Linked DNA regions of Homo sapiens. The protein of the gene in region 4 purifies or fractionates together with the protein of the main gene of each other region. This does not show direct contact. Each region holds a gene or a part of one and is shown on either strand. Other genes may lie near its edges.

Region 1 (7,026 bases), on a different chromosome or scaffold from region 4:
GAAAATCAAAAAATTTCTTGGAACAAATGAAAATGGAAACTACAACATACCAAAACCTATGTGATACAACAAAAGCAGTGCTTTTGTATCACAAAACCTATGTGATTTTTTGTATCACAAAACCTGTGTGATACAACAAAAGCAGGACATGAATACTAAGTTTATGGCAATAAACGCCTACATCCAAAAAGTAAAAAGATTTCAAACAATCTAATGATTTACCTCAATGAACCAGAAAGAACAAGCCAAAGCCAAACCCAAAATTAGCAGAAGGAAACGACTAATAAAGATCAAAGCAGAACTAAATGAAATAGAGACTTTTAAAAAAGGCAGAGGATCAACAAAATGAAAAGCTTGTTCTTCAAAAAGATAAACAAAATTGATAAACTACTAGTTAGGCTAACAACAACAAAAAAGAAGACCTAAATAAAATCAGAAATGAAAAAGGAGACATTACAACCATTCTCATAGAAATAAATAGACCATCAGAGAATATTATGAACAGCTATGCACCCACAAACTGGAAAACCTAGAGGAAATGGATAAATTTCTGGAAACATACAACCTATCAAAGAAAAATCCAGGAAAAAATAGAAAACCTGAACAAATTAATAATGAGTAGCAAGAACGAATCAGTAATAAAAAGTCTCCCCACAAAGAAAAGCCCAGAACCAGATGGATGCACACTGAATTCTACCAAATGTATAAAGACCTAATACCAATCCTCCTGAAACTACTCCAAAATACTGAAGAGGTGGCAATTTTCCCTAACTCATTCTAGAAAGCTGGTGCTACCCTGATACCAAAACCAGACAAGGACACAGCAAAAAAAAAAAAAAAAAAAAGAAAGCAACAACCAATATCCCTGATGAACACCAATGCAAAAATCCTCAGCAAAATACTGGCAAACCAAATCTAACAGCACATTGAAAAGATAATACACCATGATCAAATGAATTTATTCGAGGGATGCAAGGATGGTTCAATATATGCAAATCAATGTGACATATCACATCAACAGAATAAAGGGCAAAAGTCGTATGTCATCTCACTAGACGCAGAAAAAGGAATTCATAAAATTCAACATCCCTTCAGGATAAAAACTCTTAGCAAACTAGGCACAGAAGGATTATACCTCAAAATAATAAAGGCCACATATGACAAACTCACATTAACATCACACAAAAATGGGGAAAAGCTGAAAATCTTTCCTCTAAGAACTGAAGACAAAGATGCCCACTTTCACCACTACTATTCAACATGGGACTGACAGTCCTAGCCAGAACAATTAGGCAAGAGAAAGAAATAAACGACATCCAAACTGGAAACATGGAAGTTAAACTGTCCCTCTCTACAGATGACAAAAGACTATCAAAAAATTCTTAGAGCTGATAAATTCAGTAAGGTTGCTGGATACAAATTCAACATACAAAAACCAGTAGCATTTCTATATACCAACAATAAAATAGCTAAAAAAGGAAATCAAGAAGGCAACACCTTTTACAGTAGCTCAAACAAAAGCCAAAGAAGTGTAAGATCTCTATAATGAAAACTACAAAAACACAGATGAAAGAAACTGAAGAGAACACAAATAAGCAGGAAGACATTTCATGCTCACAAAATATTGTTGAAATGATCATACTATCCAAACTAATGTACAGTTCAATGAAATCCCTATTAAAATACCAACACCATTTTTCAAAGAAACAGAAAAAAGAATCCTAATGTTTTCATGAAACCAAAAAAAAAGCCAGAAAAGCTAAAGAAATTCTGAGTTAAAAAATAAAGCGGCGGCATCATTCTACTTGACTTCAAAACATATTACGAGGCTATAGAAACCAAAGCAACAAAGTATTGGTATATAAACAAGCATACAGACCAATGGAACAAAATAGAGAACCCAAAAATAAATCCTCATATTTATACACAACCGATCTTCGACAATGCCATTAAGAACACACACTGGGCAAACGACACCCTCTTAACAAACGGTGCCAGGAAATCCAGGTAACTATATGCAGAAGAATGAAAGTGAGTCCCTATCTCTCACCATTTAGTTGATACAAATATCAACAAAAATAGATTAAAGACTTATATTATATAAGACCCAAAAGTGTAAAACTAAAAGAAGAAAACACAGGGCAAATGCATCAAGACATTGGTCTAGGCAAAGATTTTATGGCTAAGATCTCAAAAGCCCAGGCAACAAAAACAGACAAATAGGACTACATTAAACTGAAAGGCATCTTAAATTTTTTTTTTTTTTTTTTTATGTAAGGGCTCCCTCTGTCACCCAGGCTGGAGTGCAGTAAGTGTGATTATGGCTCACAGCAGCCTCAACCTCCTGGGATCAAGTGATCTTCCTATCTCAGCATCCCAAGAAGATGGGACTACAGGCATGTTCCACCATGTCTGGCTAATTTATATTTTTTTGTAGAAACGGATCTTGCTATGTTTCTCAGGCTGGTCTCAAACTGCTCGGCTCAAGTGATCCTCCTGCCATGGCTTCCCTTAATGCTGAGATTATAGGCTAAAAAGCTTCTGCATAGCAAAAGAAACAATCAACAGCATGAAGAAGACAACCTCTTAAATGGGACAAAATATTTGCAATCTACTCATCCAATATGGGACTAATACCCAGAGTATACAAGGAACTCAAACAACACAACATTAAAAAATAACCCCATTAAAAAATAGGCAAGGGACATGAATAGACATTTCTTAAAAGACAAAGAAATGGCCAAGAAGTATATGATAAAATACTCAATATCACTAATCATCAGGGATATGCAAATCAAAACCACAATAAGGAATGGCTATTAAGAAGAAAAAAAGTAACAGATATTGATGACAATGTGGAGAAAGAACTCTTCTACACTGTTGGTGGAAGTGTAGGTAAGCATAGTCACTATACAAAACAGTTGGGGATTTCTCAGGCCAGGAGCGGTGGCTCACGCCTGTAATCCCAACACTTTGGGAGGCCGAGGCTGGCTCCCAAAGTGGTCAGGGGATCGAGACCATCCTGGCTAATATGGTGAAACCCCATCTCTACTAAAAAATACAAAAAATTAGCCAGGCTTGGTGGCCGGCGCCTGTAGTCCCAGCTACTCAGGACGCTGAGGCAGAAGAATGGTGTGAACCTGGAAGGCAGAGCTTGCAGTGAGCCAAGATCATGCCACTGCACTACAGCCTGGGCGACAGAGCAAGACTCCGTCTCAAAAAAAAGAAAACAGTTGGGGATTTCTCAAAAAACTAAAAATAGAGCTACCATACAATCCAAAAACCCCAATATTGGTAGTCATTGAAAACAAATCAATATAACAAAGGGATATATACACTCCTGTGTTTATTGCAGCACTACTCACAATAGCAAATACATGAAATCAACTTAAGTGCCCATCAAAGGATGAATGGATAAATGTGGTATATATACACAATGGAATACTATATGCCCATAAAAAAGAATAAGATCACGCCATTTCCAGGAATATGGATGGAGCTGGAGGTCATTATGTTAAGTAAAATCTAAGACAGGGAAAGATAAATATTTTTCAAAATAGCCAGAAGACTTGAAATGTACACAACACATATATATGATAAATACCTGGCTGTGGATAGTAAATACTCTGATTTAATGATTATATATTCTGTGCATTTAACAAAATTTCACATGTACCCCATGAATACGTATAAATATAATGGATCAGGAAAAAAAAAGAAGGAAAAGAAAAAAAACCTTAAAGGTAAAGTTGGCTAACTTGGAGAATTTTTTTTTTTTCTTGAGACGGAGTCTCACTCTGTTGCTCAGGCTGTAGTGCAGTGGCACTATCTCAGCTCACTGCAACCTCTGCCTCCTCGGTTCAAGCGATTCTTCTGCCTCAGCTACCAAGTAGCTTGGGCTATAGGCGCGTGCCACCATGCCTGGTTAATTTTTGTATTTTGAGTAGAGATGGGGTTTCACCAAGTTGGCCAGGCTGGTCTCCAATTCCTGACCTCAGGTGATCTGTCCGCCTCAGCCTCCCAAAGTGCTGGGATTACAGATGTGAGCCACCGAGCCTGGCTGAAATTTTCTAATCTTGTCTTTAGGAGTAGTTTTGACAGTGGGAGAATACATTGATGAGTGATAAGGAGGAAACAGCAGGTAGATATTTAAATGTTCTTATTCTGAAATGCAATTCTGTAAAAAGTATTATAAGAGTTAATGGATAAAAAACTTTCTAGAGTGTTTTCTAACACTCTATAGAGGTTGCAGTGAGCGGAGATCACGCCACTGCACTCCAGCCTGGGCGATAGGGAGAAATCCTATCTCAAGAAAAAAAAAAATCCCCCAGAAATAATAAATGGTAGTAATAACAATGATAACTAACAATTATTGGGTACTTATGTGACCAACCCAGTTCTATGTGCAGTAGATATATTACCTTATCAATCCTACATTTCTACATCAATCCTGTTTGTACCTCAATCCTACAAACAGAAAGTATTATTATCGCTGTTCTACAGATGACAAAACTGAATCATAGAGAAAGAATTTAAGAAACTTAGTCAAGGTCACACAGCTGATCAGTAGATGAACAAGGATTTGAAAGCCTGACTCAGGCAGTCTGGGTGTTATCGACCTTCTTCCTTAATTAACATATAGTTGTACTGTGGCTATCATGGATTAAGAAAACATATAATGACTAAATATACAAAGAAGACTACTGTGAACTCAGTAATACTTAAATGAAACAGTACATTATAAAATGAAATGACATTTGTGCACATCATTCTAGCTTCATACACTGTAACTAAATAAAGAACAAAATGATACTGTGTGACATGCATATGGATTTAAAGACCCCTTGTAATAACTCTCTGGGAGTCCCTCAGTAGTTCACTGCTCACAAGTGGGGAGCCACTGATGAGAAAATAAGATAATATATAACCAGGCTGGGCGCAGTGGCTCACGCCCGTAAACCCAGCACTTCGGGAGGACGAGGCAGGTGGATCACGAGGTCAGGAGATCGAGACCATCCTGGCTAACGTGGTGAAACCCTGTTTCTACTAAAAATACAAAAAATTAGCCAGGCATGGTGGCGGGTGCCTGTAGTCCCAGCTACTTGGGAGGCTGAGGCAGGAGAATGGCGTCAACCCAGGAGGCGGAGCTTGCGGTGAGCCGAGATTGTGCCACTGCACTCCAGCCTGGGCGACAAGGCGAGACTCTGTCTCAAAATAAATAAATAAATAAAAATAAATAAATATATAACCAACGGATATTATGCAAAAGCAGTGAAAACAGTATTTCAGAGCTCTGAGATGTAAAAGAAACTTTACAGAAGCTTGGCCTAAGGCGGGCAATGAAAGTGAGGGAATGAAAAAGCATTTGTTAGCATTAAGGGAGTGGAAATAAGAATAAGCAACTCAGATTTTTTGTGTTTTTTTTTTTTTTTTTAAAAACGGAGTCTTGCTGTGTTGCCCAGGCTGGAGTACAGTGGCTCAATCTCAACTCATTGCAACTTCTGCCTCCTGGGTTCAAGCAATCCTCGTGCCTCAGCCTCCTGAGTAGTTGGGATTTCAGGTGTGGGCAATCACGCCCAGCTAAATGTTGTATTTTTAGTACAGACAGGGTTTCACCATGCTGGCCAGGCTGATCTCAAACTCCTGACCTCAAGTGATCCTCCCACCTTGGCCTCCCAAAGTGCTGGGATTACAGGTGTGAGCCACTGCATTTGGCCTGCAACTCAGGTTTTTAAACGGGGAATAAAAACAATATTTTGTTATCTGGCAGTATTATATAAGACTAAAAAGAGAAAGAGAACCCAGTGAGGTTTTTATTGAAATAGGTTAAGTATTTGATGTGTTTAACATAAAGCCATAGAAATAGAGAGAAAAAAGATAAACTGGAACAATATCTTAAAGCTATAATAGGTCTCTGGTGACTGACACATATAGAGAATAAAGGAAACAGAGAAGTTAAAGTGTCTCTAAAGTCAAAAGGTATAAAAAACTGTGGTGCCACTGGTCTAACCAAGGGAAGCAATTTGGTTGAGTTTGATGAGATAAGTGAAATGTGTGAGAGGGAAACACAACTGTGAGATCTGGGTCAGTAGACATGTCCAGGGATATGGATCTATCTATAGATTATATACTGTACACCTAAAATCACTTAAGTCCTGAGCATGGCCAGGTTTTCAGGGGGCTGGGGAAGAGCAGAGAATGAAGTAACAACCATAATTAGAAAATATGGGCTGGGCGTGGTGGCTCACGCCTGTAATCCCAGCACTTTGGGAGGCTGAGGCGGGCGGATCGTGAGGTCAAGAGAGCAAGACCATCTTGGCCAACATGGTGAAATCCCGTCTCTACTTAAAATACAAAAATTAACTGGGTGTGGTGGCGGGCGCCTGTAGTCCCAGCTATTTGGAAGGCTGAGGCAGGAGAACTGCTTGAACTCGGGAGGCAGAGGTTACAGTGAGCCAAGATCACACCACTGCACTTCAGCCTGGTGACAGAGTGAGACTCCATCTCAAAAAAAAAAAAAAAAAAAAAGAAAGAAAAAAGAAAATACGTGGGAAGAGAGTAGAATAATAATTTCAGAACAGAAAGAGACCCAGAGGTCATTAACCCCCTCTTTTTACAGTGAATCAGATAGGTAAAAACAACCAAGGCAGAGAGGAAGTAGAACAGAAACAGAAAGCCAGATAGCCTCTAGCAGACTGACAATCCTCAGGGAAATTTTATTTCTCTTTAGACATTTCCCAACGTAATAATTACCTTAATAATATCACCAGTTCCTTCAGTAACAGGTTTTGATCTGAGTTCTTCAATTTCTTTCTCCAATTCTAAACAATTAAAAAATAAAGGACTCCGGTTCAGAAATAAAGAACATAATTACTGGGAAACTGATAAGTACATTCTCACAAAACCCCCCATAAATCTGCAAATTAGAATATATTTAAGCAGAATAGTATGATTAATCTCTGCACTCATCACTATACTTCAGCATTACATGGCCAATTTTGTTTCCTCCCAACCTGTACTCACTTC
Region 2 (7,026 bases), on a different chromosome or scaffold from region 4:
CTGCCTCAGCCTCCCGAGTAGCTGGGATTACAGGGGCCCGCCAACATGCCCTGCTAATTTTTGTATTTTTATTAGAGACGGGGTTTCACCATATTGGCCAGGCTGATCTTGAACTCCTGACCTCAAGTGATCCACCCGCCTCAGCCTCCCAAAGTGCTGGGATTACAGGTGTGAGCCCCCAAGTCTGGCCTACCTCCCCACTTTTAAATGACACTCCAGGTGCCCAGAACTTTGCAATTTCTTGCCCAAGCACTTCTAACTCAATTTGAAGGCCCACACAGGCCTCTTTCCTAGGTCTGTCCTTAGAAAAGACTGTGCTACACTTGTGTACACCCTTGGGCCAAGGAGTACTTGTTTGGGGATGGGAGTACAAGAGCTTAGACCTTGTGCGTGCATGCAAGGTGTTCACAGCATGTACAGGAGACCTCTTTGTGGTGCTAGAAAGAGCCAGAGATGACGGGAGGAGGTTGGGCTTAACCACACTCTGCTGCAAAACTGTGAATTTATGAATTCTAAATTCCACAGATTTTAAATTTGAAACTTTCAAGTCATTATGAAGGTATATTTATCAAGAGAAAAGACTAGAATATAGATAATGATTTGTTGGCCTGGTTTATAAGCTTTAAATATTTAGGCCTATTGTGGTAAATGGATGCTTATCCTGGATCTTACAAATGTTAGGGGCAGATCTCCTCTCACTCAGAGTGAAGTTGATGGGTTTTATCCACCTATTTTTATTAATTATTAAAGTAGGCCAGGCACACTGGCTCACGCCTCTAATCTCTGCACTTTGGGAGGCTGAGGTGGTGGATAGCTTGAACCCAGGAGATTGGAACCAGAATGGGCAACACAGCAAAACTCTGCCTTTACAAAAAACAAAAAACAAAAAAAAGAAAAGAAAAATTAGCTGGGCATGGTAGTAGTCCTAGCTACTCAGGAGGCTGAGGTGAGAGGATCGTTTGAGCCCAGGAGGCAGAGGTTGCAGTGAACCAAGATCTCGCCACTGCATTCCAGTCTCGGCAAGAGAGAGAGGCCTTGTCTCAAAAAAAAAAAAAAATTATTAAACTAGTAAAATAGATCTAAGAAGGCATAAAAATAGAATCAGGAATAAAGAGAACATTTAAAGTAATTTTCCAGTTTCAATAACTAGCTAAATATTAAATGATTGATTCAGGATTTAAACTTTCAAGCCCATGTTTTTGTTTTTGCCCTCCCACCACTCTGACTCTCCAAAAGCAGCCAGTTTACTAATTAATAAATTAAGTATTATACAGATGTCCCAGTACCAAGTATAATCTCAAATACTATTTCTGAATATTGAAAACTTAATGCCTAGAATGGTATCAAACTGTTTCATGGATCCTAAAAGAAAGTCAGCTGGTGTCCTTTTGAAAGAACTGGTCTTCCTTTCCATTTATCCTGTGAGAACTAGTCTCCCATAATATATATTAAGAGAAAATTTTCAGTTAAAAAATTTAAAAATACTCTCAGGTATAACAACTAGTTCACCTGTTCTTCTCTAGGTTCTCATCATTTCTGTAGTTTAACTACATATGAATCATATTGAGAATGAGGCAATCACAATGGACTTTTCTTGAAGACAGTCCAATACAAAGCTGTGGACAAAAAAATCTCAACATGGCCCAGGCACGGTGGCTCATGCCTGTAATCCCAGCATGAGATTTTGGGAGGCTCAGGTGGACAGATCACTTGAGGTCAGGAGTTCGAAACCAGCCTGGCCAAAATGGTGAAATCCCGTCTCTACTAAAAACACAAAACTTCACCAGGCACGGTGGTGGGCACCTTGTAATCCCAACTACTCAGGAGGCTGAGACAGGAGAATTGGTTGAACCTGGGAGAAGGAGGTTGCAGTGAGCCGAGATCACGCCACTGTACTCCAGCCTAGACGACAGAGTAAGACTCCGTCTCAAAAAAAAAAAAAAAAAAAAAAAACTCAACATATTGGACAGGAAAGTTATTGGAAACCAAACTGAAAGCACTGTATATTCTAATACTATAAAAAACCATGGACCATGAAATCTTGCTCCTATCACCTTGCCTCAAAGGAGATATAACATCGGTGGGAAAAATATCCAATAAAGGTAATTAAAACAAATACGGGGAAAGAGAGAGAACAAACAAAAAGGAGAAACAGAAGACAAACTAAAAAATAAACTAAATTCTACAGTACTAAAACTAGAAGGTATTCTCAAAATTTTGAAAATTAATAAAATTGCAGCTATCTTCACTTATTCCTTCAACATTTACTTACAACTTACGACATGCCAACTTCTATGCTAGGTGCTAGTGATACATGCTAAGTACTAGGTTAGGTGCTAGTAATATGTGAGACAAAACATCTAGCCCCTAAACAGTAATACTGCAAAGCAATAGCTACGCAGGTGAAGGTACTTCCGAATCATAAGGAAGAAAACAACTCTGCCTGGGGACTTCACAAGGTATTAAAGGAAGAGCAGGAATTGGTTAGTCAAAGAAAAGGGGAAGGATAGTCTAGAGCAGGAGTCTCTAACCCCTGGGCCATGGATTGGGTCCATGGCTTGTTAGGAAAGCCACACAGCAGATCAGTGGTGGGCGGGCAAGCATTACTGCCTGAGCTCTGCCTCCTGTCAGATCAACAACAGCATTAGATTCTCACAGGACCACAAACCCTATTGTGAACTGTAGATGCGAGGGATCTAGGTTGCACTCTCCTCATAAGAATCTAATGGCTGATGATCTGAGGTAGAACAGTTTCATCCTGAAACCATCTCCCCTCAGCCTTGCTCCATGTAAAAATCGTCTTCCATGAAACCAGTCCTTGCTGCCAAAAAGGTTGGGGACCGCTGGTCTTGAAGAAAATAATTCTAATGATAATAATATAAATAAAACAATAAAGAGCTAACATTTATTGGACACTTTCTATATGTTAAGCATTGTACATACATTATTCTATTTGATTCTCATAACAATCCTGTGACTTTTTATCCCACTTACAAATTAAGTAACTTACTAAAGATCATACAGCTATATAGAGGTGACACTAACAGAGATCATACAAAACTAAGCTGTCGGCCAGGCGCAGTGGCTCATGCCTGTAATGCCAGCCACTTTGGGAAGCTGAGGTGGGAGGATCACTTGAACCCAGGAATTCAAGACCAGCCTGGGCAAAAAAGTGAGACCCGGTCTCTATAAAAAAAATTTTAAAAAATTAGCCAGGTGCAGTAGCACATGCCTGCAGTCCCAGCTGCTTGGGAAGCTGAGGTGGGAGGATTGCTTCAGCCTAGGAGTTTGAGGTTGCAGTGGGTTGCGATTGTGCCACTGCAGTCCAGCCTGGGTGACAGAGTGAGATCCTGTCTCAAAAACAAACAAACAAACAAAAAAACTAAGCTGTGAACTATCATGATTTACTTGAGGAGCCATAAGTAGGTAGATATAGCATAGCACAGGATAATAATAATGACAGCAACCAGCACTGGGGATATAGTGGGTCAACAAAACAGAAAATAGACTTATCTGTCCCTGCCTTAGTAGATAATCCTTCCCCATCAGGAAGGGAAACATTATCTCCCATCTTATAAATGTAGGAACTGTAATTTGGAGATATTAGGCTCACATACCAATAAGTAGCACAGCTAGAACTGAACCCAAGTCTATGTCTATCTGACATAAGGCTCAAATTCATTCCACTTTACTACACATGGCTGTATTATTCAATCATTCAACAGAAATATATCAAGAATGTACTGTGTGTCAAACACTGTCCTAAGAATACAGAGACAAAAGATAGAGTCCCTGGCTTCAGGAAACTCACAGCCTAGTCAATAGAGTCAAGCAAAGAGTCAGGCTGGTTTGTGCCTATAATCCCAGAACTTTGGGAGGCTGAGGTGGGTGGATCGCTTGAGACCAGCCTGGGCAACACAGTGAAACTCCATCTCTACAAAAAATACAAAAATTAGTCAAGCATGGTAGCGCGTGCCTGTGGTCCTAGGTACTTGGGAGGCTAAGGTGGGAGGATAGCTTGAGCCCGGGAGGTGAAGGCTGCAGTGAGCGGTGATCATGCCCCTGCACTCCAGCCCGGGCAACAGAACAAGACCGTCTCAAAAAACAAAAACAAAAACAAAAAAAAAAAACAAGCAAACAAACAAACAAAAAAGGGCAGATGACTTCTGAAGTCCCTTCAAACCCAAAATTCTAAAGGAAAAGCCATAACAAGTTTATCACAATTACCAAGTGTTCCAAGTACAGCTCTCTATAACTATCTAATAGGGTTGAATCATAAATAATAATTCCAAATATTGTTCTGATACTATTAACAATTTTCTCAGTACTTAAAATCCTAAGACATCCATATTTTCAACCGTTTGGGTAATATGAATTGGACGTTTTTAAAATTTTAGGAGTATGAAATTAACTACAATGTCACAAATTCCTTAAAAACTCACAGCAAGTAATATTCAAAACTGGCTCCAGAATTAAATGACATCTCAAACAGGAAAATAATTATTTCTACTTCACTGTCACCAAGCCCTACAACTGATAACAATAAAGAAAAAAGATTTCAATCCACTGAAGTAGGAAAATGCCCTACAGCGTACAGAAGAGCTGGCCCATCATTCCAGATCTCTGAATAGCTTTCCTCTTCCTTCCCATTAGTTTAAGACGATTGAAGTCATGTTACAAGTTCTAACAGAGATTATTTGCTTCAAAAAGCTACTCAATGAAATTCAGGATTCATCTCTGAATACAGTAAATCTCAAGTCAGTGAAAAGACTTCAAAATTGTGAGGCAGAGTCAGTAAACAGTGTCATGAAGAAGTTAGCTCTTCACTTTCAGAGTCTGGGTGCAAAACAGCAACAACAGAGTCATTAAATTAATCAATTTTCTTAGTCTTAATAAACATTTTAGATGAAAAAACTTATATAATAAGGTTCCTGGCCAGGTGTGGTGGCTAATGCCTGTAATCCCAGCACTTTGGGAGGCTGAGGCAGGCGGATCACGAGGTCAGGAGATCGAGACCATCCTGGCTAACACGGTGAAACCCCGTCTCTACTAAAAAAATACAAAAAATTAGCCAGGCGTGGTGGTGGGTGCCTGTAGCCCCAGTTACTCGGGAGCCTGAGGCAGGAGAATGGCGTGAACCCGGGAGGTAGAGCTTGCAGTGAGTTGAGATCACACCACTGCACTCCCGCCTGGGCATGGAGCGAGACTCTGTTTCAAAAAAAAAAAAAAAGGTTCCTATAAAAAAAGTCCATCTCACATCTAAAAGCAGTAATATAAGACTAGCAGAGCAAAAATGTAATTAAAAGTATATAAACAGCCAGGCATTGTGGTGCGCGTGCCTGTAGTCCCAACTACTCAGATGTTTAGGGTGGGAGGATGGCCTGACCCCAGGAGTTTGAGGCCATAATGCACTATGATCACATATTCCAGCCTGAGCAACATAGCCAGACCCCATCTTGAAAAACAAAAAAGTATACAAACATATTTCTACTGGTGGCCAGAGACCAAATTTGCCCTCCTCCCTGAAACAACTGGGGGGAAAAAAAGACAAAATACATAAAACGTTTTTCAAGACATTGGACATCAGGCAACAAAAGACAGTGATCCCCAATCGATGGGAAACAAGCATGAATCCAACAACTGCTCCAGCATTATGGCCTTGAAAGAGTTTCCAGGCCACAGAACAGGAAGAGGGGAATCCAGGCAGAGCACAATGGTCTGAGCTGAGGGGACAGAACTGAGTCTGGAGACAGCAAGGTAGCTAAAGTACACAGGGCAGAGTACTTAACAGAGTTGAACAGTGAGAAAGATCTGCAGAGGGTATCCCTCAAGTCTGAGTACTTATCAGAATATAAGTGTGAGGAAACTACCCAAAGATAGTGAAAGAACCACCAAAAAGACTGAGAGCGAACACCACCAAGTAGGTCCTGTTTCCACCAGCTGGAGTATTCAGAGGGGTTTTGCCTCAACAGTGTGACAAAGTAGTACTGCCTAACAAATCTTAAAAGCATGTCCCCAAAAGATCAAACTGTTTTCAGGTAACTTAATGCATCCCAGAACGAAGCTCAAGATTTTTGTATTTAATGGAATACAAAAATATCCAGCGCCAAACAAGCTAAAATTTCAAATGACTGGCATCAAATTAAAAAAAAAATCACCAGGCATGCAAAAGCAACAGAATCCATAATGGGAAGAAATATCAATCAACCGAAACCAACCCCAAAATGACACAGACAGAATTAGCAGACATAGACATTAAGCCAATTATAACTGTATTCCATATGTTCAAGAAGCTAGAGAAAAGACAGAGCATGAAAAACATAGACATGGAAGATATAAGACAATTTCTAAAGATGAAGTTATAATATCTGGAATGAAAAATATGGTGGGTGGGATTAAGAGCAGACTAAACATTATAGAAGAAAAAATTAATAAATTTGGAGACATCACAACAGACTATCCAAAATGAAACAAAGAAGACTGAAAGAAAATTGAATTAAACATCAGTAAGTTTTAAGACAACATCAAAGCTACTAATATATATGTAACTGGACTTCCAAAAGGGTGAAGAGGTCAAATAAATAAATAAATAAATATATATATATATATATATATATATATATATATATATATATATGTATATATTTTCTTCTAGGAATAATGACTGAAACTTTTCTAAATTTGATAAAAACTATAAACCCACAGATCCAAGACACTCATTGAATTCCAAGCACAAGAAACATGGAAAATATATAAATAGTTTCATTTACAAAGGGTTCTTGCTCACAAATTCTGTAACTAAATGTACTGTAGAAATTAGACTAGGCCTAACTTTTACATTTACTAGGTATAGAGTTACAACTGACACTTTATAATAGAGTACATTAAAGCATACATTAATCTAAGTAAAGTGCTTAACAGAAATCCTAATGACTTCAAAATTAGCAAAATACAGCTTATAAAACAATGTATATTTTGTTGCCCTATCAGTTAAATAATTTATTAAGATAAATTTGATCTTATTTT
Region 3 (7,296 bases), on a different chromosome or scaffold from region 4:
TACCGAGCCGAGATGTTTGGGAAGATATTAATGTAATTAACAGAGAAAATCACAAGGGAGAAAAAAGCAGGTTTGGGAGTACAGGCATAACTTGGAGATATTGCAGGTTCAGTTCCAGACCACCATAATAAAGTGAATATCACCATAAAGCAAATTGCTCGAAATTTTCGGTTTCCTGGTACATAAAAAAAGCTATGTGTTTACACGATACTGTAGTCTAGTGCATTATTTCTAGTTTGCATTATTTCTTTAAAAAAATTTACATGCCTTAATTTAAAATGCTTTTTTTTTTTGAGACAGAGTCTTGCTCTGTCACCCAGGCTGGAGTGCAGTGGCGCGATCTCAGCTCACTGCAGCCTCTGCCTCCTGGGTTCAAGTGATTCTCCTGCCTCAGCCTCCCGAGCAGCTGGGACTACAGGCGCCCGCCACCACGCCCGGCTAATTTTTTGTATTTTTAGTAGAGATGGGGTTTCACTGTCTTAGCCAGGATGGTCTCCATCTCCTGACCTCGTGATCCGCCCGTCTCAGCCTCCTGCAGTGCTGGGATTACAGGCGTGAGCCACCGCGACTGGCCTTAAAATACTTTATTCTAAAAATGCTAATGATCGTCTAAGCCAAGTCATAATATTTTCACTGATGGAGGGTCTAGCCTTGATGTTGGGGGCTGCTGACTGATCATGGTGCTGATTGCTAAAGGCTGGGGTGGCTGTGGCAATTTCTTAAAATAAGACAACAATGAAGTTGTTTTCATTCTTCCTTTCATGATATTGATTGATTCTTCCTTTCATGAAAGATTTCTCTGTAGCATGCAATGCTGTTTGATAGCATTTTACCCATAGTAGAACTTCTTTCAAAGTTGAAGTCAATCCTCAAACCCTGCAACTGCTTTATCGACTAAGTTTATGGAATATTCTAAACCCTTTGTTGTCATTTTGGCAATGTTCACAGCATCTTCACCAGGAGTAGATTCCAGCTAAAGAAACCACTTTCTTTACTTATTCATAAGAAGCAACTCTTCATCCATAGTTTCATCATGAGATTGCAGCAATTCAGTCACATCTTCAGGTTCCACTTTTTTTTTTTTTTGAGACAGAATCTTGCTCTGTTGCCCAGGCTGGACTGCAGTGGCGCGATCTGGGCTCACTGCAACCTCTGCCTCCCGGGTTCAAGCGATTCTCCTGCCTCAGCCTCCCAAGGCTCCACTTCTAATTCTAGTTCTCTTGCTACTTCCACAGCATCTGCAGTTATTTCGTCCATGAAGTCTTGAACCCCCTCAAAGACATCCAAGAGGATTGGAATTAACTTCTTCCAAACTCCTGTTATTATTGATATTGACCTCCTCCCATAAGTCACAAATGTTCTTTTTAAAATTTTTTTATTAAATATATTTTTACTTTTTTTTTTTTGAGACACAGTCTTGCTCTGTCACTCAGGCTGGACTGCAGTGGCACAATCTCGGCTCACTGCAACCTTGGTCTCCCAGGCTCAAGCAATCCTCCCACCTCAGCCTCCCAAGTAGCCAGGTGCATGCCACCACTCCTGGCTAGTTTTTGTATTTTTTTATAGAGACAAGGTTTTCTATGTTGCCCAGGCTTGTCATGCACTCCTGAGCTTAAGTGATCCACCCACGTTGGCCTTCCAAAGTGCTGGGTTTACAGGTGTGAGACATCTCACCAAGCCAAGTCACAAATGATCTTAAGGACATCTAGAATGGTGGTGAGTCCTTTCCAGAAGGTTTTCGATTTACTTTGCCCAGATCCACCAGAGAAATCACTATGTCTGGCAGCTATAGCCTTATGAAATATTTTTTTTTTTTTGAGGCGGAGTTTCACTCTTGTTGCCCAAGCTGGAGTGCAATGGCACGATCTCAGTTCACTGAAACCTCCGCCTCCCAGGTTCAAGTGATTCTCCTGCCTCAGCCTCCTGAGTAGCTGGGATTACAGGCATGCGCCATCATGGCCAGCTAATTTTGTATTTCTAGTAGAAACGGGGGTTTCTCCATGTTGGCCAGGCTGGTCTCGATCTCCTGACCTGGTGATCCGCCCACCTCAGCCTCCCAAAGTGCTGGGATTACAGATGTGAGCCACCGTGCCCGGCCTGAAATATATTTCTTAATAAGACCTGAAAGTCAAAATGACTCCTTGATCCATGAGCTGCAGAATGTCTGTTGTGTTTGCAAGCATGAAAGCAACATTCATCTGTTTGCATACCTCCACCAGAGCTCTTGGGTGACCAGTTGCATTGTGAGTGAGAAGTAATATTTTGAAAGAAATCCTTTTTTTCCTGAGCAGTAGGACTTAAAATAAAACATACATAAAACGGTGAACTTAAAATACTCAGTTAACCATGCTATAAACATATATGCTGTCATCCAGGTTTTGTTGTTCCATTTATAGAGCACAGGCAGACTATATCTAACATAATTCTTAAGGGCTCTAGGATTTCAGGGATGTAAATGGGCACTGGCTTCAACTTAAAGTCACCAGTTGCATTAGCCCCTAACATGAGAGTCAGTCTGTTCTTAGAAGCTGTGAAGCCAGGTATTGACTTCTCTCTAGCTACAAAAGTACTACTTGGCATCTCCTTCCAATAAAAGGCTGGTTCATATATATCAAAAGTCTGTAGTTTAGTTTAGCCACCTTAATCAATTACCTTAGTTAGCTCTTCTGAATAACTTGCTGCGGCATCTACATCAGCACTTGCTGCTTCCACCTTGCACTTTTAAGTAACGGAAATAGCTCCTTTCCTTAAACCTCACGAACCAGCCTCCGCTATCTTCCACCTTTTCTTCTGCAGCTTCCTCACCTGTCTCAGCCTTCATTTTATTGAAGAGTTAGGACTTTGCTCCAGATTAGGCTTTGGCTTCAGGGAATGCTGTGGCTGGTTTGATCTTCTATCCAGACCACTCAAACTTTCTCTATATCAGCAATGTCTGTTTCACTTTCTTATCATTTTTGTGTTTACTGGAGTAGCACTTTTAATTTCCTTCAAAAACTTTTCCTTTGCATGCACAACTTGGCTAACTTTGGTGCAAGAAGACTGGCTTTCATCCTGTCTTGGCTTTCAACATGCCTTTTTCACTGAGCTTAATCATTTTCAGCTTTTTATTTAAAGTAAGAGATGTGTGACTCTTCCTTTCACTTGAACCCCCACTGTAGGATTGTTAATTGGTCTAATTTCAATATTGTTGTATCACAGGAATAAGGAGGCAAGAAGAGAGGGAGAAAGGCAGGGAGACTGCTGGTCTGTGGAGCAGTTAAAACATCCACAACATTTATGAATTAAGTTTGCCATCTTATATGGGCATGGTTCATGGTGCCCCTAAACAATTATAATAGTAATATAAAGGATAACAGATCAGCATAACATATACAATAATTATGAAAAAGTTTGAAATATTGTGAAAATTACCAAATGTGGTGCAGAGACACATAGTAAGCCTGTGCTGTAGGAAAAATGGCGCAGATAGATTTGGTTCCATGCAGAGTTGCCACAAACCTTACATTTGTAAAAACAGTTACCTGGGAAGCGCAATAAAGGAAAGTGCGAGCCTGTAGCAGATGCACGTTCCATTTAGACATCCTTAGGACTCACACCAGCGAAGGGCCCCAGCTTTTCCATACCAGTAGCTGTAATTCTGAGACGAAAGTGCTTTTCCCCCACCTTTACACCTTGCTTTCTGGAAAGATAAGACCATAATGGATTTTGAACTTGCTTTTATCATTAAAGCCCAGTGTCTTACATTTCTCCGGAAAAGGAAGCAGTGTTTGCTATGGAACAAATAGTAGAATTTTAATACATAGTCCCCTGACCGTAGAAACTGAACCTCAGGTCCTATCCTGGCTCTAGGCCACCCGGTCATGGAAGAAGAAACTTTTCTTAGAATCTTTATCTCTTGAGACAAGCTTGGAAATTACAACATATATGTACCATGAACGCGAAGTACCTGAGCTCAAAGCAGTTGAGCAATCTTAAGTGGGGGTGCCCGAAAGTGGTGCGTTCTGACCCCAAACGTCACACTACCCGTCCCTGGAGGAGCGGGTTGCAGCCCAGCTGCGTCGCCCCGCGCAGAGCTCCAGGCAGAAGAAAACTACATTTCCCAGAGACCTCTGCGCGGTCGGGAGCACCGCGAGGAGGGGCGAGATGGGGGCGGGCCTCTGTGTGAAGGCCCTTCCCATTGGTGCGCATTCCAAAGGGCCATGTAAACTTCTTCGCGATTGCACGGATTCAGGGACGCTCAGTGGCGCCGCGCCGCTCCTTGGTTTGACTTTTGTTTTTCAGTTGCGTTCCCTGACTCGGAGTCTTAGTGTGTCGTGAGTATAGAGTTTCGGGTTTGGGGTGAAGGGGTTAGGTAAGAAGCCTTGGGAAGAAAATCTGGTTAGGGAGAAGTAACTGCGGAAGCAGTGCGGAGGAGAGGACGTGAGCCTGAATGTGGTGTCCGTGGAGGGGCTGGGGACCGGAGGAGGAAAGCTCCAATGTGCAAAGGGAGAGACCTCAGGAGTGCTGGAGCGTTGGGACCTGGAGCAGTGAGGCGGTCGAGAATGGGATGAAGTGGGAAAAGGAGTACGGGATTCGGGCGCCCTGGAGATGCGTTCCGGTGTACTCTAACCCCACGCTGGTCTAGCTCTCAGTTTCCTCATTTGTGAAATAAGGGATAGTGAAAATACTGAACGGTTGTTGGGATAATAAATTGTACAGATTTGTCACGTGGCTAAAAGAAAAAAATTCAAAGTGCTACACAAATGTTAATTGTTAGTAGACAAGCTATAAGAATATATCTAAGCAAGGGTATTGGAGATAGGTGCAGAGACCCTAGCTGAAACCCGTTAATTTACCTATAAACAAAGGCATTGTTCCTTTGGAAGAGGCAATGAAGAGTAAGACGCGATTTCTGTCTGTAGGGAGCGCACGCTAGCATGGGAGAAACGATAGCAATAAAGCACTCTAATATGTTGACTTGTAGATAATTTCAAAGGCAGTTCTTTTGCACTTAGATCATTTTTGCTAAATCATTTTGGATGGGGAGACTCAGGAAAGAGAAAAAGGAGGTGGTATTTAAGATGAGTTTTCATGTACAGACTAGATTTTGTTAAGTGAAATTATGAGGGTTGTGGAGGGAGTTGTGTTCCAGCTAGAGGGAAGCTCATGAACAAAGGTATGGAGGCAGGAAAGTTATCTGGAAACGGTACATTTAGGAGAGTAGAGAGAAATAAGGCAGGAAAGTTAGGTTTGGCCCTTATGTAGAAAGCCATGAATTCTAGGCTAACAAATTGGATTTAATGCTTTAGGCTATGAGGTGCTACTGATGTATTTTATTAAAGAAAATGGTCCAGGAGACGCAAGGAGTAGGTAGAACCGTTAAGGTGTTGTAATGGTGTGGGTAAGAAGTATTGAGACTCTGAATTAACATGGTCATTGTGGAGATAAAATATACAAGATATTCATATGGTTAGACAGGAGGTTCAGAAGAATGAGTGATCAAATGATGAATTTAAGTTGCCAACTCCCGGTTGCTTGGAAACGCTGAATTAGTAACTAAAATAGGAAAGTCAGAAGGGGCATGTTTGGATAAAAAGATGATGTGTTAGGTTTAGGAAATGTTAGCTTTGAGATGCTAAAAAAATACCTAACTTGAGTGATTTCTTTTTTAAGTTAAACGTTTCAAGTGCCAGTGGGACTATGGGTGAAAATGTCCACTACATTTTTGTTAATTCAAATCAAGAGGTTGAAAGAGATGTCGTTTATTTATTCAACATGTAATTGTTACTTACTGTATGCCATGTAGTGTTTTAGATGACAGAGTTAATAATAAAAACAGGAGGAATAATGATGTTCCCAAAGAAATGGTTAGAGGAAATGATAAAGAAACTTGAAGACAGAACCTCTGAGCCAAGGGAGTAAAATTGTCAATAATAATAATAGTCCACATTTACTGAGTGCTTATATATGTGTCAAACACTGTCCCTCGGCCTTATATCCGTACACCAACCTATGACATAGAAGTAACTGAAATTTAGAGAGGATAACTTGCCTGAGGTACACAGCTAATAAGAGGCAGGGCTTTGACTCAAACCCAAGTCTGATATCAGAGCCCACATTCTCAACTACAAAGCAATATTTATTTTTATTATTATTTTTTCCAGGTAAGGTCTCACTCTGTCACCTAGGCTGGAGAGCAGTGGGGCAATCTCAGCTCAGTGCAGCCTCTGCCTCCCAAGCTCAAGCAATCCTCTGCCTCAGCCTCCTGAATAGCTGGGACTACAGGCACGTGCCACCACTCCCAGCTAATTCTGTAATTTTTGTAGAGACAGGGTTTCACCATGTTGCCCAGGCTGGTCTCAAACTCCTGACCTCCAGCAGTCCATTCACCTTGGCCTCCCAAAGTGCTGGCATTACAGGCATGAGCCACTGTGCCCAGCCTATTTTAATTGTTTTTTGAGACAGGGTCTTGCGCTGTTGTCCAGGCTAGAGTGCAGTGGCACGATCACTGCTCGCTGCAGCCTTGAACCCTCAGGCTGAAGTGATCCTCGCACCAAGCAGGTGGGACTACATTGCCACTGTGCCCAGCTAATTTTTAAAATTTTGGTAAAGACAGGGTCTTGCCATGGCCTGGCCATGCCAAGGTCCGGTCCCAAAGTGATATATTTTTAAAGGGTAGTTGGCACTACCAGGCACAGTGGCTCACGCCTGTAATCCCAACACTGGCAGGCAGAGGTGGGTGGATCATCTGAGGTCAGGAGTTCGAGACCAGCCTGGCCAACATGGCGAAACCCTGTCTTTACTAAAAATACAAAAAAAATTAGCCACAGTGGCAGGTGCCTGTAATCCCAGCCACTGGGGAGGCTGAGGCAGGAGAATCACTTGAACCCAGGAGGTGGAGGTTGCAGTGAGCCAAGATCGTGCCACTGCACTCCAGCCTGGGCTGAACAGAGTGAGACTCTGTCTCAAAAAATAAATAAATAAATAGGTAGTTGGCACTATCTAATTAAGAATACAAGTGAAGGAGTAACTATTGGATGGAGGAGGATAGAAACAGAAAAGAGCAATTGAATTTATTAATTTGGATGTCTGCTGACCAATAAGAGCTTGGTTAGATGTCATAGTAGAAGCCCGAGGCCTGGCTCAGTGGCTCATGCCTGTAATCTCAGCACTTTGGAAGGCCAAGGGAGGAGGATTGTTTGAGTCCGGGAGTTCAAGGCCAGCCTGGGCAACATAGCAAGGCCCCGTCTTGCAGCCAGAGAGGTGAGTGTAGACAACTTTTCGTAGACATGTGCAACAGTGAGGACAGTCACTATG
Region 4 (7,026 bases):
TTACCAATAGCGCATACTTTCTAAAGATTTAAAGAGAGAATTAGGAAAGCAAAAATGGGAAAAATTAGGGTGAAATTAAGTCCTTATTTGTAAGGAGTGTAGTTGCATTAAAAAACAACTGGGGTTAATGAGAATAACAGGAGCTAAGAGTTCCCAACAGGGTGGGAATATGGTGTATAAAGGAAAGGGCCGGAGAAGAGGAAGGGGGAAATGAGAAAGGGGCATCGATAGCATTCCCCATCAAACTGCCCCCAGAAAGGAATGGTGGAAGTTTAGAGCAAGGCCAGCCACCAGTCTAGAGCAACCTGCTCTGAAGGAGCAGCCTGCAGGGGATCCCCAATCGGTATCTAAACAGCCAGAATGCATTGTGGCTTGGGGTGACCAGTCCAAGGTGACTGCACAGGGAGAGGATCACAAGAGGCAGGAGAGCGCAGAAGTGCTCTGTTAGCCACCCAAGAAGCTTACCTTACAGAGTAACCACCCCCTCCACACCCGCCCCCACCCACAGTGTGACACACTGCTGTCCAGACTGACAGAATTGCAGGAAAAGTACAAGGCCAGCCAGAAGGAGATGGGGCAGCTGCAGATGGAGCAGTGTGAGCTCCTGGAGGATCAGAGGAGGATGCAGGAGGAGCAGGGCCAGCTGCAGGAAGAGCTGCACAGGCTCACACTGCCACTGCCAAAGAGTGGCCTCTTACTCAAGGTAACTCTGCCACAGGCAGCTGCTAACTGCGGGGAAGCTGCTCTGAGAAGCTTCCCTGTGTGACTAGGGAAAAATAAAAGGGTGGGGATTGAACTTTTTCTCTTACCAACCACTCCTTACTTTCTCACCACTCTCCCCAAACCAAAAAGCTCCATAGAGCCAATTAGAGTTTTTCTTATAAGGGCTTTAAATCTTAAAATACCTTTTATACTCAGGAATCTGTGCAGCAGTTTATATTTAGGTATTTAGTCCATCTGGAGAAAATGCACCTGAAGCCACTTTGTAAACTACAAAATATATCCCAACACAAGAGACCACTGCCACTTTTAGCAGGTCTCCATAGAAGGGCTCCCCCGTCCCCAGATGGGCTCTGTGAAGTCAACCCTGAGATTCTTCAGGGAATTGTTCACAACGGGGATGAGGCACCAAGGAGGCATCAGACTTCCTGTGTGACCACCACCATCCCTTGCCTCCTTCCTTCTACTCCGCCTCAGAGTCAGGAGCTACTCACCAAGTTAGAAGACCTGTGTGAGCTGCAGCTGCTCTACCAAGGCATGCAGGAGGAACAGAAGAAGCTGATACAGAACCAAGACTGTGTATTAAAAGAACAATTAGAGATCCACGAAGAGCTGCGACGTTTCAAAGAGTCTCATTTCCAGGAAGTGTTGGAGAATCCCGATGATTCCAAATTGGCTAAGTCCTCCAAATGTAATCGAAACAAGGTAACCATAGCAAGAGGTAGGGAGACAGTTCTCCTGAGCACAACAGCATGGCAGAGAGAGTGGGCACCGCCGAAGGGTCAGAGTTGGGAAGGCGTGTTTGGCCAGGGGTAAGGATAAGGCAAAAGCCCTGCCTTTCACCAGCTGTGACCACTCACAGGCTCCATTAAGAGGTGGCTTTTAGATACGGCCTGAGGACCTCACCTAGATGCCATTATCCTTTATCACACTGATATTCACAGTGCCCAGTTGAAGCACTATGAGCACTCAGGGCAGAGCTGGGATGACCAGAAGTCTGTCATCAGATCATTCGACTCATTCCCAGTAAGATGTATAATATCAGTTTGGTGTTTGTTTGGATTCCTTTGGACTGACTCTAAATGTCATCTTTTTCTTGAGTGGAAAAGTACACTTCTCAGTTATCAAAATCTATCACCTTTGGTGTTCTCTATGAGGCAAATTTGGGGCCTTTCATTTCCAAGAGAAGAATTCCTAGCATATGGGGTTCTTAGTACTGACCACACTATCTTCATTGGAACTTTGGTGGCAGTAACAGAGCAAGGTCACAGGGGTTAGACCAGAAAATTGATGCCTCTCAAGTACCAGCAAGAGGTCATTCAGATGAGGTGACACAGGTGGAGATCACCATACAATTCTCTTCAGGGTTGGGGGATAAAGTTGTTCTGAGGTCTCAGCGTGGGCAAGGAGGGGCAGGTAGACAGTTTCGGTTTAGGCCAAATCTATTCATTCAGATCTTATTCTGAACAAGGAGAACCAGGGAGTAGCAGAAGTCAACACTGTGAGGCTGGATCATATTCCAGGGGCATCAGATGTCCAGGCTGGAGGCCTGGGTAACACAGCTGGGAACCAGGTATAAAATATTTCCTTAACTGATCAGATCTCATCCTGGACATCAGCAGCCAAGAAGCCAGGCCCAACATGCCCAGAGGCCAGATTCAGAATTGGGGCAGGAGATACAGGAACTAATAGTAAGACTTTGATTCCAATTCTTCATATTGCCGCATTCAAGGCCGGGGCTGATTTTAGAACTAGGGGTGGGCGAGGGGACTGAGCCTGAAGGTCAGGATAACAGGTATACCTGACTGAGAAGAGGGTGTGGTAGGGAGCCAGGGTGTTCTGGAAACCCACTCGGCACTGCTCCAAGGAGACAGGGATGTACCAAAGTGCAGAAACCAGCCGAAATGGGAGCCCGGAAATCATGGAGTATCTGCCCTGGGGAGATTTTCCCAAATGAGCAAGAAACTGATACATGCCAGTTACCTATAGGCTAAGTCAGAGACATAGGCCGGGGTGAGGTGGAAATGTAGGTGTGCCATTCTCTAAGGTGTGCTCTCAGACATCTGTACCAGGAGAGGTGCAGCTGGAAGGACTGAAGTGTCAGAGTAATGATACTGTCTCCCCACCCCTGCCCCCAGCAATCCAAGCTGCTCATGGAGCAGATGCAGGCCCTGCAGGTGATGTATGACGCCGGTCAGGCGAAGCAGGAGCTCTTGCAGCAAGAGCAAGGGAGGCTCCTAGAGGAGCGGAAGAGGCTGCAGGCAGACTTGCAGCTCTGCCTGGAAGAAATGCAGCTGCTTCAAGTCCAGTCCCCTTCTATAAAAATGAGCCTTGAGTCCTACGGGAAGAGCTATGGTAGCATGGTCCCCAGCAATGAGAACTGTCGCAAGACTTATGATACCACTGTGGATGACAATGAGAGCTATTACAAGAGTTACACCAGCACCCAGACCAGCAGCAAGAGCTTTCTCAAGAGCTATGACAGCAGCACCAGTGCCAGTGAGGCCTATGGGAAGAGTTACTGCACTACCAGCAACAGCAGCATTACCTATAAGAAGAGTTACGGCAGCACCAGTAGCTCTGACACCTGCCAGAAGAGTTTTGTCAGCAGCTGCACTGACGAGGAACCTGCTGAGCCTGAAGACATGGAGGTAATGGTTGCCAGGTGACAGGTCAGGCAGGGGACGATGGACTCTTGTCTTTTTAAGAGATACATCGCCAGGGGAAGGGGCAAGAAGTGTGGGAATGGGGTCAGAACTGACCTGGGGAACTATTGGAAGTAAGCGAAGCCCTCTACCCATGGCAGCCTGGTCTCCCGCTCAGCCCTCTCATAGAGAGAATCCCCCATCTGGACAGAGGCCCATAAGATTCAGTCCGTTTCCTCACCACAGCCACGATGCTCTTTATGGGGGTAAATATAGTAATCCCCCGCGGGCATCTCTGGATCCTGGTGGCCATTGTTTGGTATCCAGGGAAGGGCCCAGCAGAGTAGGGCGGAGCTTAGGTGCTCCTCAGGGTGCTATTGTTGCTCCCCCACCCCCCGCAGCGCTTTGAGGAAATGGTTGTGAAAGTGCTGATCAAGCTGCAGGCGGTGCAGGCCATGTACCAGATAAGCCAGGAGGAACACAGCCAGCTGCAAGAGCAGATGGAAAAGTTACTGGCCAAGCAGAAAGACCTGAAGGAAGAGCTGGATGCCTGTGAAAGGGAGTTCAAGGAGTGCATGGAATGCCTTGAAAAGCCCATGGCCCCCCAGAACGACAAGAATGAGGTAACCACTGTCAGGGAGGCAGGGTTTCCTCTGGCAGCCCCTGGAGCCATAGAGGTCATGGCCACTTCATAGAGGCTAAAGAGAGGGACAAAGCAGGGAGAATATGCACCTCAGAGGCTGGGCAGTCTGCTCCATCCCTGATGACATTTCCCAAGTGCCCGTGGAGCTGGGGTTTACTAGTCATCAGGACTTCTCTCATCGAATGATTTCTCTCTTTCTCCCTTTGCCACTTCTGTTCTCTTTTGCTTTGTGTTCTAGACCACTTCTGTAGAACTGTATTTTTGCATTTGCCAATCTTCTTTCATCATTTTGTGTGCATTTGCCTTGTCTCCCGGTGCACCAACTAGGAGCACCAACTAGATTGCAAGCAGCTCAAGGACAGGGACATGTCTCCTTTTGGATCGCTCACAATGCCAAGAAGAGTGCTCTGCACCCCCTAGGAATGGGACAGAAGTCTTGTCTCTGGCCAGGGGTTCACGGTCCAGTGGGGGTCTCTTTGTATACACACGGGAGAGATTCAGAGAGCAGCGAACACATGGGTCCAGATTGGCTAGTATTGGTACCTACTGAGGGGATGGTTGTGTGCTGCCATCAGCCAAGGAAGACAAAACCCGAGATCAGGGAGCAGGATGTGACTTGCCTCTGTTTCCAGGGTGAGGTGCAGGAGCCCAGTACACACTTCAGGAGTGTACAACACAGTTCTTTAAGTAATTGTTCCTGTTAGAGAGATGGGTTGGATGAAGTAGGAGTTCCCATAAAAAGAATTCTAGGCCAGGTGCGGTGGCTCACCCCTGTAATCTCAGCACTTTGGGAGGCCGAGGCGGGTGGATCACTTGAGGTCAGGAGTTTGAGACCAGCCTGGCCAACTTGGAGAAACCCCATCTCTACTAAAAATACACAAAATTAGCTGGGCATGGTGGCGCATGCCTGTAATGCCAGCTACTCAAGAGGCTGAGGCAGGAAAACCGCTTGAATCCAGGAGGCGGAGGTTGCGGTGAGCCAAGATCATGCCATTGCACTCCAGCCTGGGCAACAAGAGTGAAACTCTTGTCTCAAAAAAAAGAATTATATAATAAATCCCTGAGGTTCAGAATTGGTAGCAGCCCTATTGTTATTCCCCAGTCACAGTAGAAAACACCATTTAAATCATTGTTTTGACCTTCTTTTTTTTTTTTGAGACAGAGTCTTGCTCTGTCACCAGGCTGGAGTGCAGTGGCACGATCTCAGCTTCCTGCAACCTCCGCCTCCTGGGTTCAAGTGATTCTCCTGTTTCAGCTTCCCAAGTTTCTGGGACTACAGGCGCGCTCCAATAAGCCCAGCGAATGTTTGTATTTTTAGTAGACATGGGGTTTCACCATGTTGGCCAGGCTGGTCTCGAACTCCTGACCTCAAGTGATCTGCCCACCTCAGCCTCTTGAAGTGCTGGGATTACACTGGATGGCAAGTGAGCCGCTGCGCCCTGCCGTTTTTTTCATCTTATTAGATGGACATCATCAGGTGCCTCAAGTTAGGAGAAGCTATTTGTAAAACTATTTGAGAGGCTCATTTTCCACCGTTGAATATTTTCTTTATTGTCTACTTCCTATGGGCTTTAACAGGGAGATTTCTGAGACAGTGACCCCCAAGCAGGGCTGAGTTTGGTTGCGTGGTCAGCCAACTGGTTGCATAACCAGCCAACTCTGGGTAACTGGCCCTCCACTACCAACAGATCAAAGAACTGCAGACCAAGCTGCGGGAGCTGCAGCTGCAATACCAGGCTAGCATGGATGAGCAGGGGCGGCTTCTGGTAGTGCAGGAGCAGCTGGAGGGGCAGCTGCAGTGCTGCCAGGAGGAGCTCCGCCAGCTCAGGGAGAAGAGGCCTTCTGTTGTCAAAGAAGCCCGGGGGAAGAATGCTAATAAGAACATGAACAAGAATGCCAATGGGGTTAAAATGAAAAAGGTGACCAAGCCATGCTCGGATACTTCTGAGAGCGACCTTGAGACCAGAAAGGTGAGTAGTAACCTTGGTAGCCAGATAAGCAGAAAGGAGGAGGAGATCCTGGGAAGAAGCATTGCCTCCACAACCCTTTCAACCAGGCAAGGGATTTGTAGAGAAGCTTCTGGGATCTCTGAAGTGTCTACAGTGGTTCCCATCTTAATGGAAAGTGGGTGCTCCCTTTTCCTGTGAAGTTATGGGGAGAGTGGAACACAGACAACTCACATCGGGAGGTGCAGCCCCAAAGGACCACAGCCCCTAGGCTGGACAACTCCTTCAGTTTGCCCAGCCCCATTTGTTGGGGCTCCTGTTCTTCCTGGGTTACATGCCCAAGAGAAGAACCAAATAGATGAAGAGGGAGGAATTTGTTCAAAGTAGTTATGTACTAATAAGTGAAAGAGGATTGGGTAAAAGAAGAGTCACTGTAGGGGTGGGAAGCAACAATTTAGGTGCAGAGCCCAAGACTCTTTAGTTGTGGTAGCTGTTTGAAATGGCTTAATGGCCAACAGACATAGTGGCCCTGAGAGGTGAGGTGTGATGCCCTCTACATATGCTCAGGGGATTGGCTCACAGTCCCAGAGCACCGGGCCACACCCTTGCACTCTGACATGCTGGAAGTCATGTTTCCTGGAGCTAGTACAGCATTGTCATGAGATTAGGAGCTTCACAGGTAACGCAGCCGCCATCCTGCCCTACTCCCACCCCACAGAGTCTGGAGGTAGTGCTGTACTACAAGGCCAGCCAGAGGAAATTAGATGGACTAGCAAAAGAGGAGGAAAAGAAAGAGGAGATGGAGGAGGAAAAAAAGCAAGTGAAAGAGGAAGCAAAGGAGCAGTGTGGGGATGAGCTAGTTGCTGAGCCAGCAGATCCTGAGGAAGCTAAATCCACAGAAGATCAGGAGGAAAATGAAGAGGACAAAGAGGAAGAGGAGAAGGAAGAAGACAGTGAAGAGGAGGAGGATGACGCCGACTCTTCCCTTGAAAGTCCCGAAGAAAATAACCCCCTCAGACTTTCCGAGAGCAAAAAGGTAACCAGAGCCAAAGCCTAGATCAAGTGGGAAGTG

What was found.
Region 1: the proteins of CCDC136 (region 4) and GCC2 purify together in Homo sapiens (affinity purification with mass spectrometry; 2 studies listed by BioGRID and IntAct, with this or other methods). This does not show direct contact.
Region 2: the proteins of CCDC136 (region 4) and CCDC88A purify together in Homo sapiens (affinity purification with mass spectrometry; 2 studies listed by BioGRID and IntAct, with this or other methods). This does not show direct contact.
Region 3: the proteins of CCDC136 (region 4) and CCDC77 purify together in Homo sapiens (affinity purification with mass spectrometry; 2 studies listed by BioGRID and IntAct, with this or other methods). This does not show direct contact.

What each region holds. Positions count from the first base shown.
Region 1 is NC_000002.12:108,452,194-108,459,219, reverse strand, and holds part of GCC2 (GRIP and coiled-coil domain-containing protein 2), read right to left. Parts: intron 6,822-7,026; coding exon 6,754-6,821; intron 1-6,753. UniProt on the Homo sapiens protein: Golgin which probably tethers transport vesicles to the trans-Golgi network (TGN) and regulates vesicular transport between the endosomes and the Golgi.
Region 2 is NC_000002.12:55,409,851-55,416,876, forward strand, and holds part of CCDC88A (girdin), read right to left. Parts: intron 1-7,026. UniProt on the Homo sapiens protein: Bifunctional modulator of guanine nucleotide-binding proteins (G proteins). Acts as a non-receptor guanine nucleotide exchange factor which binds to and activates guanine nucleotide-binding protein G(i) alpha subunits.
Region 3 is NC_000012.12:397,372-404,667, forward strand, and holds the start of CCDC77 (coiled-coil domain-containing protein 77), read left to right. Parts: upstream 1-4,272; 5' UTR 4,273-4,313; intron 4,314-7,296.
Region 4 is NC_000007.14:128,808,942-128,815,967, forward strand, and holds part of CCDC136 (coiled-coil domain-containing protein 136), read left to right. Parts: intron 1-508; coding exon 509-703; intron 704-1,197; coding exon 1,198-1,425; intron 1,426-2,320; coding exon of another isoform or gene 2,321-2,411; intron 2,412-2,858; coding exon 2,859-3,371; intron 3,372-3,766; coding exon 3,767-3,988; intron 3,989-5,696; coding exon 5,697-5,978; intron 5,979-6,672; coding exon 6,673-6,990; intron 6,991-7,026. UniProt on the Homo sapiens protein: May play a role in acrosome formation in spermatogenesis and in fertilization.